5 separate regions of the Homo sapiens genome follow, and regions 1, 2, 3 and 5 are each linked to region 4. The links come from fine-mapping of genetic effects on gene expression. A gene starts in region 4. Each other region holds a variant in brackets. All regions are shown on one strand. Distances are from middle to middle.

The links. PIP is the estimated chance that this variant, and not a neighbour inherited with it, causes the effect.
Region 1: its variant is the best candidate, but not a certain one, in a credible set for the expression of VDR in whole blood (TOPMed, PIP 0.68).
Region 2: its variant is the best candidate, but not a certain one, in a credible set for the expression of VDR in testis (GTEx, PIP 0.61).
Region 3: its variant is the best candidate, but not a certain one, in a credible set for the expression of VDR in whole blood (INTERVAL, PIP 0.60).
Region 5: its variant is the best candidate, but not a certain one, in a credible set for the expression of VDR in lymphoblastoid cells (GTEx, PIP 0.64).

The regions. Positions count from the first base shown.
Region 1 is chr12:47,878,435-47,882,551 of GRCh38, reverse strand. It overlaps VDR (vitamin D receptor), which reads left to right. Exons shown (of 10, transcript NM_000376.3): 3 at 3,437-3,584. The coding sequence starts at 3,439. Among named protein-coding and RNA genes, the nearest start is that of VDR, 25 kb to the left of the region's middle. RefSeq lists an enhancer at 1-11. The variant A/G (reference allele first, on the strand shown) is at 1,741.
Region 2 is chr12:47,853,544-47,857,660 of GRCh38, reverse strand. VDR (vitamin D receptor) reads left to right here. Exons shown (of 10, transcript NM_000376.3): 5 at 1-157; 6 at 412-532; 7 at 1,860-2,031. Among named protein-coding and RNA genes, the nearest start is that of LINC02354, 26 kb to the right of the region's middle. The variant C/T (reference allele first, on the strand shown) is at 1,584.
Region 3 is chr12:47,842,742-47,846,858 of GRCh38, reverse strand. VDR (vitamin D receptor) reads left to right here. Exons shown (of 10, transcript NM_000376.3): 8 at 51-202; 9 at 408-524; 10 at 1,854-4,117. The coding sequence ends at 2,113. Among named protein-coding and RNA genes, the nearest start is that of LINC02354, 16 kb to the right of the region's middle. RefSeq lists enhancers at 478-979, 2,504-3,076, 3,077-3,650. The variant G/T (reference allele first, on the strand shown) is at 2,574.
Region 4 is chr12:47,903,208-47,907,324 of GRCh38, reverse strand. VDR (vitamin D receptor) reads left to right here and starts at 2,331. Exons shown (of 10, transcript NM_000376.3): 1 at 2,331-2,370. RefSeq lists a silencer at 2,209-2,338 and an enhancer at 3,722-3,921.
Region 5 is chr12:47,867,400-47,871,516 of GRCh38, reverse strand. All of the region lies in intron 3 of VDR (vitamin D receptor), which reads left to right. Among named protein-coding and RNA genes, the nearest start is that of VDR, 36 kb to the left of the region's middle. RefSeq lists enhancers at 1,653-1,702, 2,469-2,538, 2,639-2,818, 2,524-3,024. The variant C/T (reference allele first, on the strand shown) is at 2,336.

The DNA.
Region 1 (4,117 bases), 25 kb after region 4:
GAGTCTGCAACTGAGATGCATGAGTGTGTGGGGTGCGGGTGGGAGTTCAGAGAAGGGCTCAGGAGATGGGGCTTGCTGGCTCCAGCCACGACCCTGGCTGGGCTCTCCTGTGCGTCTGATGTTTCCTATCCAGCCCCCATCTCCTCTTTCTCTTTGCTGCCTTCTTTAGTCTCTGCCTGTCATTCCTGGGACTTTCAGCTCTCAAGCCACAGAGGCTTGGACATCTCCACATGTGGACTCTGGTCCTGGGCGCTGGCTTCTTGATAGCAGCAAATAACCTCAAGCAGGGTTGGGTCTTCTGTCAGCTCCCCTGAAATGGTCTCATTCACTGTGGGCCTCTGGCTGCTTGATCCAGCCTTTCCAGCCTTCACCCCCAGCATAGAGACTTCCTGATGTCAAGGCAGCACCCCACCCCATTGCAGGACTGCCCCGTTGCTGTGCTGTGGTAGTATGTTGTTCCACTCGCTTGCATCATAGCATCTCCAAATGAGTCCATGTGATGCTGAACATGTGTTGACTGATTTAACAGATATTCCTTCCTACCCCCCATTTGATTTCTCTGTTTTCCACGAAATCCACCGGATACTTGGGAGCCTGGATGACCCAGACTCTGTAGCAACACCACGATGACTCGGAGCTGCAGCATCTCAGCTGACCCAGGGTTAAGCCACAAGCATCCTGGACAGTTTCCCCTATTACCCCACAATGATATTGGGCCTCCGGGATGCTGGCCACATCTTGAATGTGTGCTATGTTCTAAAACCTGCAGGCATCAGCTTGGACTTGGGATGGTCTTTGGGGACAATGTTGATAGATCCACAAGCACTTTTTCTATTTTTAATTGTTTTTTAAATTATGAAACGTTTTGTATATTCAGAAGGGCATGCAAACACAGATATACAAAACATAGATGTAGTGTTTTGCTAATAATAATAAGAAGAAGATACCATATGCTCACTACTCAAAAAATAGAATACTGCTACTATATAATGCACACCCCTCCCCGATCTCATCTCTCCAAAGGTTTCTGTTAATCATTCCTTTGTTCTTTTTTTCTGAACTTTTCTTATAGGTTCAGGGGGTACCTGTGCAGGTTTGTTACAAAGGTATATTGCAAGATACTGAGGTTTTGAGTATGAATGAATTGTCTCCCAGGTAGCGAGCATAGTACTCAATAGGTTGTTTTTCAGCCCCTGCCCCTGTCCACTTGTATTCCCAGTGTCCATTGTTCTCATCTTTATGTCCATATGTACATGATGTTTAGTTCCCACTTATAAGTGAGAACATGTGCTATTTTGTTTTCTGTTTCTGGCTTTGTTTCCTTAGGATAATGGTCTCCAGCTGTATCCATGTTGCTGCAAAGGAAAAAGGACAGTGTATGTGTGTAAAAAGGACAGTATACGTGTGTAAAAAGGACAGTATATGTGTGTGTATATATATATATATACACACACACACACATATACTGTATTTTCTTTATCTAGTCCAGAGTTGATGGGCACCTGGGTTGATTCTGTGTCTTTGCTATCGCTGCAATGATCTTTGTTCTCTTTCTGAAAGTGCTTCTCTCTTTATATATAGGTATATATTTATACTTGCTAAACTTTAATGTATATGTAGCTGCTAAAATTTAATATATACATTAAATATGTATTTATATATTTAATATATATTAATATATAATATATATTAATATGTATTTATATATTTAATGTATATATTATATATACATTAGAGTTT[A/G]GCAAGTATAAATCTAGCTGTGAAAGAAATTAGCAATAGTGTCACTATTACTATTAGGATAGTTCAAAAGTAATTGCGATCTTTGCCATTATTTTTGATGGCCAAAACCACAATTACTTTTGCACCAACCTAATACATTAAGGTTTCCAGGAAAAGAAAAGCTAAATGAGGTTAGGGAATCTCCGAGGTCTGTGACCGGGATTCCCTCTGTCCCTTTGGGACTGATGATAACATATTCTTGCTTATCTGCACCACTTCTTTCCCTTGGTGTGAAGCTCTTTGGGGAATTTTTAGAAAGTATTTGTTTTATTCATTTGGCAGTAGTGGTTTCTAGACATATCTTAAGGTTTGGGCCTCTCTGGGCCTCATTTGTAAAGGGGATGATGATAATAGCATCTACACCATGAAGTGGTATGAAGGTGAAATAAGACTTAATGAGCTTTGATATTCCACACCCTAGATCAGAGATCATGGGCCTAGTCATTGAAAAGTAGCTCAGAGCCTCCCAAGGGCCCCCAGAATCTGCCTCTGTCACCCAAGGGCAGGAGGAAATGGTACCCTGGGGTGGAGTGGGTTCTTGTCTCTTGTTTCCTGGCTTTCTCTCTTATTTTTCTTCTGACAAGAAGGACCCTTTGCCTAGGGTCAAAGGGGTCACTGAAACCTGTAATGACCCTTTTGAGGATTCAGATAAAATTGGGAGAACTGGGAGGCAGTAGGGTCTGAAAGCATTTCAGGGCAGTCTGAGGTATCCCAGAATCATCTCTGAGCCTGACAGTAGACGGGATCAGACGCAGCAGACAAAGCTGGGGGCCCAGTTTTGGCTAATGAAAGAGTCAAGCCAGCTGCTTCCTGAGAAGGCCTTCCCAAAGCTGTGGGCTTTCGTTCCGTCTGTCTCTTCTCCTTTTCCTCAAGTATGAAATCCATCTCTAGATGATAATGCCTGTTTAGAAAAACCATCTCTGAAAACACAATTAATTGTATAGGACTCACATGACTCAGAAGGACATTCAAAATAATGTTTTAAGTGTTATTGCCAAAAAAAGGGGGGGGAAATATCTTGAAATGTTGATTGTCTTGGTACAGGAACACCAGGGGCATAAGCCTATTAGCCCTGAGCTTTATGGTTGTGAGGAGCTGGGGCTGGAATGACCAGGGCACCTAAATCCTCAATTCCCCCCACCCTCAAGAGGAGGAGACCTGAGGGTTTCTCTCCACATGTAGGTGCTGAGGCTGAGGGAGGACTCTCATTTTCCCTTGGAGGGGGCGTTGGGCAGGATAGAAGCCCCTGACCTGGTTCAGGTCTGTGCCTGAGGCAGAGCTAGTGCCAGTAGCATGAATGGGTTCATGCATATGATCCTTACACCCTGGAAGTAAAACACCTCTTCCAATGCAGACAGCGGGGGCATGCAGAGGTGAACCACTAAACCCAAATTAACCTGACAGATGCAACATCTGAAACCAGGCAGCTGATTCCAAGCCATGCTCTGAGCCAGCTATGTAGGGCGAATCATGTATGAGGGCTCCGAAGGCACTGTGCTCAGGCCTGGGCCCTGGGGAGATGCCCACCCTTGCTGAGCTCCCTGGTGGTGGGGGGTGGGGGCGGTGGGATGAGGCTGGGGGTGGGTGGCACCAAGGATGCCAGCTGGCCCTGGCACTGACTCTGGCTCTGACCGTGGCCTGCTTGCTGTTCTTACAGGGATGGAGGCAATGGCGGCCAGCACTTCCCTGCCTGACCCTGGAGACTTTGACCGGAACGTGCCCCGGATCTGTGGGGTGTGTGGAGACCGAGCCACTGGCTTTCACTTCAATGCTATGACCTGTGAAGGCTGCAAAGGCTTCTTCAGGTGAGCCCTCCTCCCAGGCTCTCCCCAGTGGAAAGGGAGGGAGAAGAAGCAAGGTGTTTCCATGAAGGGAGCCCTTGCATTTTTCACATCTCCTTCCTTACAATGTCCATGGAACATGCGGCGCTCACAGCCACAGGAGCAGGAGGGTCTTGGTGAGTGGTATCTTCTTTTCCCTCCTCTCAGCTCCAGATGTTCCTCTGACTCTCTTGGAAATCGCTTTCCTGAGGTTGCTGTGTGGGTCTCTGTCTTTCCATTACGCCTGTAACCCACAGCCTCCTACACCAACCCACGTGTCCATCCTTCCAGAGTGAACCTCCTCCCTGTTGATGATCACAGCTTCCTCACCCAAGAGACAGGCATGTCTTTGGGGAAAGCCCAAGAACTTGGTTTCAGAGCTTGCCTTCCCATCCAATCCAAACTGTTCCTTGGAACAAGGGAAATGGCACCTCTTGTCGGGTCATCACGATCTGTACCCATATCTTCACCCAAGGACTGTTTGTCCTGGTCTGAAAGCCAACCTTGGAACATCCAGG
Region 2 (4,117 bases), 50 kb after region 4:
GAAGCGGGAGATGATCCTGAAGCGGAAGGAGGAGGAGGCCTTGAAGGACAGTCTGCGGCCCAAGCTGTCTGAGGAGCAGCAGCGCATCATTGCCATACTGCTGGACGCCCACCATAAGACCTACGACCCCACCTACTCCGACTTCTGCCAGTTCCGGGTATGTCTGCCTGCTGGGAGGATGAGCCGGTCCAGAGGAGAAGCACTAGTGGAGCCAGGGCCCAGGGAGTAGGGACAGAGGGCAGGGGACATCCTGAACAGAACTGGGGTAGGGACGGAGGCTGCTCTGCCCCTGGCACTGGGAGGCTTCGCCTTCCTGTAGACCTTCCTCAAAGCCATTCCTATCAGAGATCAGGGCCAAGGTAGGAAGGCAACCCCAAAATGTGGGTCTGAGACCCCATCTTTCCCTTCCAGCCTCCAGTTCGTGTGAATGATGGTGGAGGGAGCCATCCTTCCAGGCCCAACTCCAGACACACTCCCAGCTTCTCTGGGGACTCCTCCTCCTCCTGCTCAGATCACTGTATCACCTCTTCAGGTAAGCAGGACTTCAGTCCTCCATAGAGTAAGGGAGCGGGGGCGAGGAGTCCACCGCACCTGCCCTGGGGCTGCTGGATGGAAGGAGGTGGAAGGCTCCCTAATGGAAACTTACATAAATACTGTGCGCTATGCAGCGTCTTCACAACAGCCCCTCTGTTACAGAAAGGGGTGACTTACCCAAGGGCCCACACTGGGGAAGAGGCCAAGCTGGGATTCCAGCTGTGTAGCATCAGCCTCCCGGGCCCATGCTGTTTCCTCTAAGCCAGGCTTCAGCCCATGGCCCCCTCCGTGGAGGTGACCTGCTTCCTTTACGTGATATTTTAATCCTGGGCCCTTCAGAAGGTGAAATTTGGAGTGGGAAGGTGAACGTGTTGGTCCTATTGAGGTCCACCTTCCACTTGAGCTCTGGGGACCACTCTGGCCCTGGAGGACCTGTCCCCTCCAGCTCAGCTGAGAGTCTGGGAGGCATCATGCTTTCCTTCCTTTCTTTTTTTTTTTTTTTTTAAAAAAAACACATATGTATATTTAGAAAAGAAATTGTGCTGTATACAATCTGATGACTTGCTTTTTTTTATATGGCATTGTTTTTCCATACCAGTTAGTACGCATCCAGAATATAATTTTTAAGGGCTGCATAGTATTCTGGAATACAATAATGTACCTAATCCCCTACCATTGGATATCTGGATTATTTCTCAGCATTTTAATAAGAAAACAGTATACTTGTAGCCAAATATTTACACTTATCGGAAATTTTCCCTTACAATGAATTCCAGGAAGTGTGACTACTGGTCAAAGAGTACACACAATTATTTGACTAATGTCAAATAGCTTTCTAGAGTACCTTCAGTAATGTGCACCTCCTTTAGCACCCCAGCCCTCATAGGCATTGCCTAATTTCCTGCATCTTTATAAATACTGGCATCAATATTTAAACATTTTTGTTTCTGGTTTGTAGGTGAAAATTATAGATGTTCTACACTGCAGTTCTTTGACCATTAGCAAGGTTGAACATTTTTTTCCATGACTTGATGGGTCCCAAATTCTTT[C/T]TTGATTGAGATCCATAGGAACAGCACACAGTCTGCTTGAGGAAGTCTCATTGCTCTGAGTGTCTCTGGCTCTTTGATTTTACTGCCTTATGCTGCTGAAAGAGGCAGAGAGAGTCCCAGAGGGAAGCCTGGGGCTGAAGGGTGACCTGTGGAGTCACTGTGGGATTCCCAGCTGGCTCTGCTGCCAGGGCACACCAGGTTTTTGCAGGGTCTGGCAGGAGGGGGCCTGGTCCAAGTATCCTTAAATAGCTCCTTCTCTTCCCTCATCTCTCCCAGACATGATGGACTCGTCCAGCTTCTCCAATCTGGATCTGAGTGAAGAAGATTCAGATGACCCTTCTGTGACCCTAGAGCTGTCCCAGCTCTCCATGCTGCCCCACCTGGCTGACCTGGTCAGTTACAGCATCCAAAAGGTCATTGGCTTTGCTAAGATGATACCAGGATTCAGGTAAGAAACTTCTGCAATCTCTGGGGAACAGAGTCAGAGTCCTAGACTGAGCTACAAGAAGGGTTGGAGATCACTCATCCACCACTTCTTTTTTTTATTTTTTATTTTTTTAAACGGCATCTTGCTCTGTCACGCAGGCTGGAGTGCAGTGGCGCGATCTCGGCTCACTGCAACCTCCGCCTCCTAGGTTCAAGCGATTCTCCTGCCTCAACCTCCCAAGTAGCTGGGATTACAGGCACCAGACACCACGCCCGGCTAATTTATTTATTTATTTATTTATTTATTTATTTTTATTTTTTTTCCAGACAGATTCTCGCTCTGATGCCCAGGCTGGAGTGCAGTGGCACTATCTTGGCTCACTATAACCTCCGCCTCCCGGGTTCAAGTGATTCTCCTGCCTCAGCCTCCTAAGTAGCTGGGATTACAGGTGTGGGCCACCAAGCCCGGCTAATTTTTATAATTTTAGTAGAGACGGGGTTTCACCACGTTGGCCAGGCTGCTCTCGATCACCTGACCTCGTGATCCAACCACCTTGGTCTCCCAAAGTGCTGGGATTACAGGCATGAGCCATCGCGCCCTGCCCTAATTTTTTTATTTTTAGTAGAGACGGAGTTTCGCCATGTTGGCCAGGCTTGTCTCAAACTCCTGACCTCAAGTGATCCACCCACCTCAGCCTCCCAAAGTGCTGGGATTACGGGCATGAGCCACAGCAGCCAGCCTCCATTGCTTCTTTAAAATAGAGATTCAGACCCTACCCTAGACCTGCGAAATCAGAATCTCTGGCGTAGGCCCAGAAATCTGTATTTAGAAAGTGCAGCCTGTCTTGCGTTACTCTGCAGGCCAGCACTGGAGAGCTAGTCCATCCCCGCACTTTCTGGATGATGGTGTGGAAGCCCAGAGAGGTCCAATGGCCAGCCAGGATCCCTTCCAGGTGTTGGAGCCAGCATGTCAGAGCCAGGCCTAGAACTCCCAGCTCACTGCTGTGTTCACTCCAGCTGGCTTGACTGGAATCCTCATATTATCTCTTTAAATTCAACGATATGATTCCTCCACACCCCAACTCTGAGAGCAGAATGAAGTGATAGAGAGAAGGGCTTGGCCATGTAGACTTGTGAAACAGTCTAGGAATCCTGGAGAGAGATAGGTTTACTGGCATATATGACCCTGGCATCCTTCACCAAAATGTACATTTAAAGACCATTTCCTGGCTGGGCACAGTGGCACATGCCTATCCCAACACTTTGAGAGACTGAGGTAGGAGGATTGCTTCAGCCCAGGAGTTCCAGACCAGCCTGATCAACATAGTGAGACCTCTTCTCTACAAAAAAAAAAAATTATAAATTAGCCAGGTGTGGTTGCACATGCCTGTAGTCCCACCTACTAGGGAGGCTGAGGCAGGAGAATCACTTGAGCCCAGGAGGTCAAGGCTACAGTGATCCATGATTTCACCACTGCACTCCAGCCTGGGCAACAGAGCAAGACCCTGTCTCAAAAAAGAAAAAAATAAAGACCATTTCCTAACCATACTGATACATTTTTGCCAAAATATATAAGTATAAGGAGTTCTACTGGAGAAGGGATCCTCCTTTATCAATTCATTCATATAAATTTCATTCATTTATTCCTATGTTTCATTGTTTTAACACTAGTACTGTATATAATACTTATATTTAAATACTCATGCAGTGTTAATTTTTTTTTTCTTTTTTGAGACGGTTTCGCTCTTTTCACCTAGGCTGGAGTGCAATGGCGCGATCTCAGCTCACTGCAACCTCCGCCTTCCAGGTTCAAGCAATTCTCCTGCTTCAGCCTCCCAAGTAGCTGGAACTACAGGAGCGTGCCACCATGCCTGGCTAATTTTTTGTATTTTTTTTGAGACAGAGTTTCCCTCTTGTTGCCCAGGCCGGAGTACAATGACGCGATCTCAACTTACTGCAACCTCTGCCTCCTGGGTTCAAGCAATTCTCCTGCCTCAGCCTCCTGAGTAGCAGAAATTACAGGCACGCACCACCACGCCTGGCTAGTTTTGTATTTTTAGTAGTAGAGTTGGGGTTTCACCATCTTGGCCAGGCTGGTCTTGAACTAC
Region 3 (4,117 bases), 60 kb after region 4:
CTTGAAGGCGTTTACTGGTAACCTGACCTCCTTCCCTCCCTCCCCTGCAGAGACCTCACCTCTGAGGACCAGATCGTACTGCTGAAGTCAAGTGCCATTGAGGTCATCATGTTGCGCTCCAATGAGTCCTTCACCATGGACGACATGTCCTGGACCTGTGGCAACCAAGACTACAAGTACCGCGTCAGTGACGTGACCAAAGGTATGCCTAGACTCCACCTCCTGGGGAGTCTTTTTCAGCTCCCAGATTCTGGCTCCACCCGTCCTGGGGTTTGGCTCCAATCAGATACATGGGAGGGAGTTAGGCACCAACAGGGAGAGAAGGGCGAGGGTCAGACCCATGGGGTTGGAGGTGGGTGGGCGGCTCCTCAGCTCTGCCCGCAGTACCTGGCCATTGTCTCTCACAGCCGGACACAGCCTGGAGCTGATTGAGCCCCTCATCAAGTTCCAGGTGGGACTGAAGAAGCTGAACTTGCATGAGGAGGAGCATGTCCTGCTCATGGCCATCTGCATCGTCTCCCCAGGTATGGGGCCAGGCAGGGAGGAGCTCAGGGACCTGGGGAGCGGGGAGTATGAAGGACAAAGACCTGCTGAGGGCCAGCTGGGCAACCTGAAGGGAGACGTAGCAAAAGGAGACACAGATAAGGAAATACCTACTTTGCTGGTTTGCAGAGCCCCTGTGGTGTGTGGACGCTGAGGTGCCCCTCACTGCCCTTAGCTCTGCCTTGCAGAGTGTGCAGGCGATTCGTAGGGGGGATTCTGAGGAACTAGATAAGCAGGGTTCCTGGGGCCACAGACAGGCCTGCGCATTCCCAATACTCAGGCTCTGCTCTTGCGTGAACTGGGCTCAACATTCCTGTTATTTGAGGTTTCTTGCGGGCAGGGTACAAAACTTTGGAGCCTGAGAGATGGTTCTGCCTATATAGTTTACCTGATTGATTTTGGAGGCAATGTGCAGTGACCCTTGACCTCTTCCGCTGGTTAGAGGTGAGAAGAGGGAGAAAAGGCCGAAGAGGAAGTTATTGTGACCTTGGGGACATGATGTCGGTGATGAGGTCCAAAGAGGGGCGGCCCTGCCTCAGCCTGTGCTAGTGGCCTGTGCCCAGGGATGCTTTCCTGGACTGGAGGCTCAAGGAATGGAGATGGGCTCCTCTACCCCTGCCCAGCCAGCCTTCTCTCATTCATTCATCCACTTAGCAACAATTTATTGAGCACCTATTAGGTACCAGGCACTATGCTAGGTACTGGGGTTCAGCAGCAAATGGGACACAGGCTCCTCTCCCATGAAGCTTAGGAGGAAACATTAAACAAATGTTATTTAATTATTAATTCCTAACAAGGCAAGAGTTTTAAAAATAAAGTAAGTGATGCTACAGAAGGGTAGAATAGAAGGAGGGAAGCTGACGTGGTCTGGGCTACAGAGGTAGAGTGTTGCCAGGAATGGCCTTTTGGAGGAAGACCTTTTAAGCTGTTATCCAAAGGATCAGTAAGAGTCTGGCAAAGATAGCAGAGCAGAGTTCCAAGCAGAGGGAGCACAGATGTGAAGGCTGGTGGCCAGAGAGCATGGCGCATCGGGACGCTGAGGGATGGACAGAGCATGGACAGGGAGCAAGGCCAGGCAGGGACAGGGCCAGGTGCGCCCATGGAAGGACCTAGGTCTGGATCCTAAATGCACGGAGAAGTCACTGGAGGGCTTTGGGGCCAGGCAGTGGTATCACCGGTCAGCAGTCATAGAGGGGTGGCCTAGGGGGTGCTGCCGTTGAGTGTCTGTGTGGGTGGGGGGTGGTGGGATTGAGCAGTGAGGGGCCCAGCTGAGAGCTCCTGTGCCTTCTTCTCTATCCCCGTGCCCACAGATCGTCCTGGGGTGCAGGACGCCGCGCTGATTGAGGCCATCCAGGACCGCCTGTCCAACACACTGCAGACGTACATCCGCTGCCGCCACCCGCCCCCGGGCAGCCACCTGCTCTATGCCAAGATGATCCAGAAGCTAGCCGACCTGCGCAGCCTCAATGAGGAGCACTCCAAGCAGTACCGCTGCCTCTCCTTCCAGCCTGAGTGCAGCATGAAGCTAACGCCCCTTGTGCTCGAAGTGTTTGGCAATGAGATCTCCTGACTAGGACAGCCTGTGGCGGTGCCTGGGTGGGGCTGCTCCTCCAGGGCCACGTGCCAGGCCCGGGGCTGGCGGCTACTCAGCAGCCCTCCTCACCCCGTCTGGGGTTCAGCCCCTCCTCTGCCACCTCCCCTATCCACCCAGCCCATTCTCTCTCCTGTCCAACCTAACCCCTTTCCTGCGGGCTTTTCCCCGGTCCCTTGAGACCTCAGCCATGAGGAGTTGCTGTTTGTTTGACAAAGAAACCCAAGTGGGGGCAGAGGGCAGAGGCTGGAGGCAGGGCCTTGCCCAGAGATGCCTCCACCGCTGCCTAAGTGGCTGCTGACTGATGTTGAGGGAACAGACAGGAGAAATGCATCCATTCCTCAGGGACAGAGACACCTGCACCTCCCCCCACTGCAGGCCCCGCTTGTCCAGCGCCTAGTGGGGTCTCCCTCTCCTGCCTACTCACGATAAATAATCG[G/T]CCCACAGCTCCCACCCCACCCCCTTCAGTGCCCACCAACATCCCATTGCCCTGGTTATATTCTCACGGGCAGTAGCTGTGGTGAGGTGGGTTTTCTTCCCATCACTGGAGCACCAGGCACGAACCCACCTGCTGAGAGACCCAAGGAGGAAAAACAGACAAAAACAGCCTCACAGAAGAATATGACAGCTGTCCCTGTCACCAAGCTCACAGTTCCTCGCCCTGGGTCTAAGGGGTTGGTTGAGGTGGAAGCCCTCCTTCCACGGATCCATGTAGCAGGACTGAATTGTCCCCAGTTTGCAGAAAAGCACCTGCCGACCTCGTCCTCCCCCTGCCAGTGCCTTACCTCCTGCCCAGGAGAGCCAGCCCTCCCTGTCCTCCTCGGATCACCGAGAGTAGCCGAGAGCCTGCTCCCCCACCCCCTCCCCAGGGGAGAGGGTCTGGAGAAGCAGTGAGCCGCATCTTCTCCATCTGGCAGGGTGGGATGGAGGAGAAGAATTTTCAGACCCCAGCGGCTGAGTCATGATCTCCCTGCCGCCTCAATGTGGTTGCAAGGCCGCTGTTCACCCACAGGGCTAAGAGCTAGCGCTGCCGCACCCCAGAGTGTGGGAAGGGAGAGCGGGGCAGTCTCGGGTGGCTAGTCAGAGAGAGTGTTTGGGGGTTCCGTGATGTAGGGTAAGGTGCCTTCTTATTCTCACTCCACCACCCAAAAGTCAAAAGGTGCCTGTGAGGCAGGGGCGGAGTGATACAACTTCAAGTGCATGCTCTCTGCAGCCAGCCCAGCCCAGCTGGTGGGAAGCGTCTGTCCGTTTACTCCAAGGTGGGGTCTTTGTGAGAGTGAGCTGTAGGTGTGCGGGACCGGTACAGAAAGGCGTTCTTCGAGGTGGATCACAGAGGCTTCTTCAGATCAGTGCTTGAGTTTGGGGAATGCGGCCGCATTCCCTGAGTCACCAGGAATGTTAAAGTCAGTGGGAACGTGACTGCCCCAACTCCTGGAAGCTGTGTCCTTGCACCTGCATCCGTAGTTCCCTGAAAACCCAGAGAGGAATCAGACTTCACACTGCAAGAGCCTTGGTGTCCACCTGGCCCCATGTCTCTCAGAATTCTTCAGGTGGAAAAACATCTGAAAGCCACGTTCCTTACTGCAGAATAGCATATATATCGCTTAATCTTAAATTTATTAGATATGAGTTGTTTTCAGACTCAGACTCCATTTGTATTATAGTCTAATATACAGGGTAGCAGGTACCACTGATTTGGAGATATTTATGGGGGGAGAACTTACATTGTGAAACTTCTGTACATTAATTATTATTGCTGTTGTTATTTTACAAGGGTCTAGGGAGAGACCCTTGTTTGATTTTAGCTGCAGAACGTATTGGTCCAGCTTGCTCTTCAGTGGGAGAAAACACTTGTAAGTTGCTAAACGAGTCAATCCCCTCATTCAGGAAAACTGACAGAGGAGGGCGTGACTCACCCAAGCATATATAACTAGCTAGAAGTGGGCCAGGACAGGCCCGGCGCGGTGGCTCACGCCTGTAATC
Region 4 (4,117 bases):
TGCATGCGCTACAAAGACCAGAGAATTGACAGTTCCTTTCCTGGAGATGTTGGAAAAGCCTGATGGAATAGGCAGGACCTGAAAGAGGAGAGGGTCTGGAGAGGTGGATGAGAGAGAACAGTTCAGGTATTGGGGGAATATGGGAAGAACATGGTTACAGACAAGGTGACGGGGCTGATGACGGCATGTGCTGGGGACCGTGATGACATCTATAATCTTGCCCATCTGCCAAACGCAGAACCTCTGAGTTCTTCAACTCTGTGAAAAGTGCATGCATGGAAATTTTTTTTTTGTTTTTTAGAGGCAGCATGAAACAGTGGGATGTGCAGAGAGAAGATCTGGGTCCAGTAGCTCTGACACTCCTCAGCTGTAGAAACCTTGACAACTCTGCACATCAGTTGTACAATGGAACGGTATTTTTTACTCTTCATGTCTGAAAAGGCTATGATAAAGATCAAGTAAGATATTCCAAAGAATTTTTAAATTATAAAGCAGTTTACACATGTGAATTACAAGTACCTCTCCTCCAACAAAGGCTGTGAAAAAAGACTAACTCTCAGTTACTACGGAATACTTAGTACGCATCTTCCACCATCTTTTGATAAGGTTTATTTGCAAGATGTCAGGCCAGTCAAGCACCACAAAAGTGACTTCTGAGTGTTCAACCTCTTTCAGAGGCTCATGGGACTTGCAGAGAATGTCCCAAGGTATTGGTGGTTGGAAATTTCCTCTTATGCTTTTCTTCCCACAAGAATCACCGCTAGCTTTCCCACGATGCTTTGGGCAAGGGGATCCTTCCTATTACTTTCATTACAGGTAGAGAATCCATCCATCAGACTGGCAGGACCTCTAAAGGGGCACTTCATCTGTTTCTCAGAATAAATGGTCCATTCCCAAGTTCAATCAAACGCTATGCCTCTCTTCTGTCTTTTGTTTAAGTCTTCCCAGAAAGTTGCCATGATACCTCCATAATGAACTGTTGCAGTGCTTAACAAACTTCACTGTTGGAAGGTTCTTCCTTCTATTTAATCTCAGTCTATTTCTTTTAACCCTATTATTGAGTTGTGAGGGGCTGGTTATGATGTAGTCCAGCATAGCTGTCTCAGAAATGGTTCAGAGACCATTGCACCAGCAGATTTGCTGGGCTCTAGCACTAGTCCTTCATTGATTAGCTGAGTCATGTTGGGCATATCACTTAAACTTTCTATGCCTCAATTTCCCACCCTTTCACCTTGTCCCTCTGAGCCATGGTTTCCTCCTCTGTAAGAGGCGAATAGCAATATCTTCCCTGGCTAAAGGAGGTCATCGACTGCTGGATGATTTTGTGAGCATTTCTATTCCAGAAGATTATGTTGTAATTACTATTTATTTATACATTCTCCCACTGCACAGTGAGTTCTAAGAAGAGGGAACCCCATCTTTTTCACCTGTCCTCTAGCAGATAGAGCGGTGCCTATCACACAGTCAAGGGAAGCAGAGAATAACTTTAAGCCAAAATTTCCTGTGGTGAGTTTTCCGCAGCCATCCACAATTCCAGGTCTCAGGAGGTAGTCTTTATCTTTTCCCCTCACGCCGATGCCACGGGGCGGGGGGGGAAGGCGGAACTCGGGACCAGGGACCAGGGAAGCTGAGACTCAGCTCCCTTGGGTGAGATTCGCGACAGGCCGGGAACGTGGTCAGCCGCGGTCGCTGCCAAGGTGATATCGGGTGGGAGCAATGACGCAACTCCGGTTTCCACTTCGGCCCCCCGGGATATTTTACCCTAATCTGTGGGATCAGGCTGAGCTTCCTGGCGTTCTGCAGCAGTAACAGGTTGGCGAGCGGAGCCCGGGATTTCCCATTCGTGCGGAGCTAGCCGCCGGTGCCAGTCGGCAGGCGCCCCCCAGCGTCCCGCGGACGACGAAGTCCTGGCCTGGTCAGCCCAGGTGGGGGTGACGCACCTGGCTCAGGCGTCCGCAGCAGGCTGGGTAGAACCACGGCAGGAAGGGTGGGGGGCTGCATCCCCGATTAACACAGGCTGAAGCGGGTATCCGCACCTATAATCATCGACAACTCTGTCCCACAGAGGGCAGAAGCGTGCCTTGCCCTATGGACGACGGTCGATGAAAATTTCACGAGTTAGAGTATCTAAGGCTACAGCGTGGCCTATAGGGTGGTTGATTCCAAGTCAAGATGGTTGCAGCGCCAACGGAGCTCCTGGCAAGAGAGGACTGGACCTGTGGGCGGGGCGGAGGGGCGGGGCGGGGCCGGGGCGGGGCCTGACCGAGAGGCGGGGCCAGGTGCTGGGCTGTCTCTGCTTGTCAAAAGGCGGCAGCGGAGCCGTGTGCGCCGGGAGCGCGGAACAGCTTGTCCACCCGCCGGCCGGACCAGGTGCGAACCCGGGAGCAGCGGGAAAGGGGGTCTCAGGATAGGGACTCGGGGTCGGGGCGTCTGGGATACCGGGGCCTGAGCGCCCGGCTGCGAGCATTAGAGTCTAAGTCTCAGCGGTAAACTTGGCTACTGAGGTCCGGGCTGTCGTGCCATGAGGCTGGGACACTAAGGGGCACTGAGGTTTGAGAAAGCTGAAGTTCGTGCCAGGCTGGCGAGGGGAGCAGCGACATCCTCGGCGCTTAGGAGAAATGCTCCGCTAACACAGTGCTTAGCACTTGGGCAACAAGAAGTATTTGTTTCCTTCTTCTGTCGGGGCGCCTTGGCATGGAGTGGAGGAATAAGAAAAGGAGCGATTGGCTGTCGATGGTGCTCAGAACTGCTGGAGTGGAGGGTGTGTAACCTTATTTATTGTCTTACAGGGCCCAGGTATGGTCACCTGTGATGGTGGAGTTGGGTCTTTTAAGTAATTTTTTTTTTTTTTTTTTTTTTTTTACTTTTCTTTGAACTACCAATGAGTTTAGACCTAATTGGCCCTATTTTTTTTCAGGACAGCCTGTCAATAGATGTTCAGAGGAACTCAGGGGCAAGCATTTAAATGAGGAAGGGGCTCAAGGAGTAGTTTCTGTTTGAAAAGTGAGGTGCCCTGGATCTGTGGGTGGTGGTGAGGAAGATTCAGAAGTATCTAGGAGGGAACAGCCTGTGGTCTCCAGGGCCAGTGTACAACTGCCCCTCCTTCTCTTCACCCAGGGACCAGAGTCTGAGACCTAGCCTGGGCTGGGGGAGCCTTAGGTCTCCAAGCCCAGACCCTTCTCACAGTTCCTCCTCCTTCTCCTCCTCCTCCTCCTCCTCCTCTTGTTCCTCCTCCTCCTCTATGCGTGCGGTGAGTGAGTCAGCCTCCTGTCTGGGCTCAGTTGCAGCCAAAGGGGCCAGAGCCCAGGCAAGCAGTTGGGCAGGCATTTTCTGAGCATTGCAGAAGCTCTCCTGGGCAGAGTTCAGCTCTGCTCCAGCTCCCTGCTGGAAGGTGGTCTTCCTCATGGGCAGGGGCTCAGATACCCAACACAGCAGTGCTTATGGAATGGCTATGAGATGATTCTAGCAGGAGGTGACCGTGAAGGGATAGTGGCTTTATGATAAATCTACATCTCATCTTTCTCCTGGGATAAGGAGGTGCATCCCAGCACTGCAGGCTTTTCCAGCCCTTCCTTCCATTTCTGCCTAGTGGTCTCATTAGCAGCCCATCTCTGCTAGTGAAGGGGGTGAGCAAAAGAAATTAGGAAAGTCTGGGGCCAGAGAAGTCATGGTGTTGGCAAAGAAGGCTTTAACTCAGGCTAGGGAGTGAGGGTGATTTGCTGAGGTAGAAATGGGTTATCTGAACATTGGAGCCTCAATTCTATGGACTAAGAGTGTTGTGTGTTGAGAGACCTGCCGTCCCTTCCCTGTCCAAGTGCTGGAGGGAACTGTGAGTCTTTCTGAAACAGTCTCAGGGCTGGCATGCAGCCAGACCAGAAGGTAGTAAGACTGCACATTTCTCCCTGGCTTTTGTTTTGGGTGCTAGAGATCGTTGAACAGAAGTAGCCCTCCCTGCAGAGTCCGTGGCCCCCACTCAGCAGCCTCTCTGGACCTATTTGAGAAGAGTCCTGGGAGGCCAATCCAGCTGTGGGGCTGACTCAAACTGCAAAAAGCTGGGGAATTCACAGTCTATGCTCTGGCTGGGTCCCATGGCTTTGGGTTTGGCTGGTCTTGATCA
Region 5 (4,117 bases), 36 kb after region 4:
ACTCCAGCGTGGGTGACAGAGTGAAATTCCATCCAGAAAAAAAAAAAAAAGAAAGAAAGAGAGAAAAGAAGGAAGGAAGGAAGGAAAGACAGATAGACAGACAGATAGAAAGAGAGAAAGAGAGGAAGGAAGGAAGGAAGAGAGAGAGAGAGAGAAAGGAAAGAAAGAAAGAAAGAAAGAAAGAAAGAAAGAAAGAAAGAAAGAAAGAAAGAAAGAAAGAAAGAGAAAGAGAAAGAAAGAGAAAAGAAAGAAACCAGTCCTCTGTCATGGTCATTTAGGTTCGGTCTTTGGCTTCTCCAGACAGAGCTGCAGTAACCACCATTGCGCCCATGGACCGATCTACCCACAGGATAAATACCTGGAAGTGGCTTTACTGCGTTAAAATGTCTGTGTGTTTAACATGCTTCGCATTGCCAATTGCCCTCCAAAAAAAAAAGTCTGTGCTCTTTTCTACAGTGCTAACCATCCTTTAATGTTTTTTTAAACCCACCTGAGGAGAACCCCCTGATGCTGCCTCTCACATACATGTAGGCCCCTACATCATTTGATGTAGGTCTTTTTATTCCTTTAGATTTGCTGGGGTATAATTGACAGATAGACATGGTCTATATTTCAGGTGCACAACTCGATGTTCTGCTATACATATACATTGTGAAATGATCACCATAATCAAACTAGTAAGCATTCCCAGCACCTCACATAGCTTTCAGATCAGGAGCTCTCGCTAGTTCCTGTATCCTGAGCAGACGCTGGAATCTCTGTGACAGTGCAGTGGAGATGGAGCCCAGAGGGGATAGTTGACCCTACGCCTGGGTTATGCAACGTGCGTCTCTGCTGGCAGAGGCCACCTACTGGAGAAAGGCCCAACTGTCCCAGGCCTGAGGCCCTGGCCCCAGGCTCTTGATGCTTTTGTGAGGTTTTTGTCTCTTTCTGTTTTGATAAACTGGTCTCTGGCATGAGAATCGGTCAATGTCCTCTCTCACCCCTGGCTTTCTAGAAACTGCATCTATATTTAGCTTGGTTGCCCCACCCCTACCCCCCCTTCCTGAGCTGGGGTATAAATGCCAACCAACCAGAGGATGACAGGGTCCAGGCTCAGAGAGCAGCTGAGGCAATGGGCTCTCATGGAAACCTGAAGCTCTTGTTTCTCAAATCCAAACCAGCTCACAGGCAATTAGTATTGGGAGGAAGGCAGGGTAGGGTGTAGACCTTCAGGACAAAGCACAGAGCCAGGGTTGGGCAGTCTGGCTGCCCTGACTCCTCGTGGGCAGAGAGTAAATGACAGCCACACATGTGGAAGTGCCCTTGGAAGGCAGGAGAACAGGGAAGAACAGGACCTCTGAGCCAAGAGGATCTGTGGCCCAGCAAACAGACATGTTGGGCCAGACACACCTGAAAGGCCAGCTCTGGGATCTGAGTTCCAGAGAGCCTCTGGGTCTGGCAGTTGGAGCTGGGGAGCAAACTTTCTATACCCTGAACACTGACCCCACGCTCCAGAGCGTAATGGTGTCCTCTTCCTTTTCAGTGTTCTCGGGCTTCATATGACAACTCTTAAGCAGAAGCAAGGGCGCCAAACTTTTTTTTTACCCCCAGTACTTTCTCTTTTATTTTTTATTTCTAGAGACAGGATCTCACTTTGTCACCCACACTGAAGTGCAGTGGCACAATCTTGGTTCACTGCAGCCTTGACCTCACCAGCTCAAGCGATCCTTCCACCTTAGCCTCCCAAGTAGCTGAGACCACAGGCGCATGCCACCATGCCTGGCTAATTTTTTTTAATCTTTTGTAGATACAGGGTTTCACCATGTTGGCCAGGTTGGTCTCAAACTCCTGAGCCTAAGCTATCTGCCCACCTCAGCCTCCCAAAGTGCTGGGCTTACAGGCGTGCTCACGCCACTGCACCCAGTCCCAGTACTTTCTCTTAATTCAGCTCTGCACTATTTTCTCTTCCTATTCCTTTTTTTTTTTTTTTTTTTTTTTTGAGATGGAGTCTCGCTCTGTCCCCCAGGCTGAAGTGTAGTGGCACGATCTCAGCTCACTGCAAGCTCCACCTCCCGGGTTCACGCCATTCTCCTGCCTCAGCCTCCCGAGTAGCTGGGACTACAGGCGCCCGCCAACACGCCCGGCTAATGTTTTGCATTTTTAGTAGAGATGGGGTTTCACCGTGTTAGCCACAATGGTCTCGATCTCCTGACCTCGCGATCCGCCTGTCTCGGCCTCCCAAAGTGCTGGGATTACAGGTGTGAGCCACCGCGCCCGGCCTTCTCTTCCTATTCCTAGCCTCATTCCTGTTGTCAGGCAAAGTGGGGCTGAGTGGCAATCTCCAACCCTCCTG[C/T]GTATAGACATCTGAGATGGAGCTTCATATTTAAAGTGACATGAGAAAAATGAGAGAAAGATGGCGAAGCAGTGGAATCTCTTTTCAGGCAACCCTGCAGCTGGGGGGGCTGCCCCCAAGTGAGGGTCAAAGGCAGGCTCCCTGGAGCCTGGGGAAGGACAGACGGGGCCTCTGATAGGCCCTGGGGCCTCAAGAAGCTCTCAGTCCCGGGCCCAGTCTGGTGAGAGGCTTTGGCTCACATCACTGTAGGTGGTGGCTGGGCTAGGCTGACGATGTGCTGTCTTCTTGGTGCCCATGGCCTTGCAGGCTTAACAGGAAGAGCTCTGAGCCAGACAAGACAGCCAGTGGGAGGACAGAGCAGCCCCTCAGTGACCAGAGCGAAATGCCCGGTTGTTGAAAAACAAAAAAAAAAAAAAGGAAATGAGAGTTTCTTCTGAAATAGAAACTTCTGGTCCTTGAGTAAGTTTAGAGAATTACGGGCATTCTGAGGCCTGAGCATTTGTGGTGACGGATGAAGCCTCAAGAACCACAAGGTTGGTGGGAGGGACACCAATCTCATGTCCTGGAACATACAGATGTCCCTGTGGGGATAATTGTATCTCGTTTCTGGGGAACCCTAACAGTTCCCAAGATGCTTCCATATTCTCTTGTCCCTCCAGAAAAGCAGCAGTAAACAAATAGAGGTGAACGGCAAAAGGCTTTTTGTTTCTACGAAGATGGAAAAAAGCCTGGCGTATAACTTCTTTCTTGTTAGCTACTGCAGGGTTAGGACTGGGCCTGAGGCGGGCTAGACTTGGAGCTAAGGAGCCCCTGATAGCCTGGTGCTGCTCCACCTCCTGACAACCCTGGCTCTGCAGTAGGCCCCTTGGGTGATGAGGGTTGTCACAGCAGGGTACCAGAGCCAAGGTCCAAAACCAACAGCAGCTGCTTCCTTGACTGTTGGGTCATTCTTGGCATTGAGCCACCTGGGGCTGTTTGGGGCATCAACTTCACTGAGCACTTTAAGTTTCTGGGGTTGAAAACAATCCAGGAAGCTAAAGGCTAAGCCTTAGATCCCTAAGACTTCCAGACCTAGGAGCCTGCACTTCTTGCTGAATATCCTCACCTGTAAGTTTCTTAACCTCAGTGGTCCCACGTATAAAGGGAGGGAGTTACACTGACGGTCTCTTGGGCCCTCTGTGGATCTAAGAGTCTGGGCCTGCCTGGGACTGCCAGTAGAGCCCTACTCTGGTCTCTTCTCTATCCCAGGGGCTGAGTCGGTGTGGTCCCCAGCTGTCCATTTGCTAGAGCAAGCTTGACAATTGATGAGTGCGATTCCCCTCAACCCCATGTATGTTCTAGTGAATGTGAACAGTGAGTCATGTTTTACCAAGAATCCTAACTAATGCCTGGCCCCTGAGCAGATGACGTCAGTAGCTCATCTCCAGGAAGGAAATGGTTGGGCCTGGGCTTTGGCTTGGAAGGCTTGGGCATCTTCACACTCAGCAGTTCCTTGGAAGATGCTGCTGCTCATGCAGACAGTGATTCTGCCACCATCTTTCCCCATCTAACTATGTCAGAAAAGTGGGGCCTACTCCTGCTGGGGCTGGGAGGAGGACAGGACTCTCAGGACATGGATGATGAAAAGCCTCTAGGGAGGTGCCTCAGGGAGGTGTCCTTTATGCAGCCTCCCAAAGTCCACGTGGTGTGGCTGGCAGTGGGAGAGAATGTTCGAATTAGGAAAATGAGCCCTTAAATGTGCACACTTGTGCACACACACACACACACACACAACTTACATAG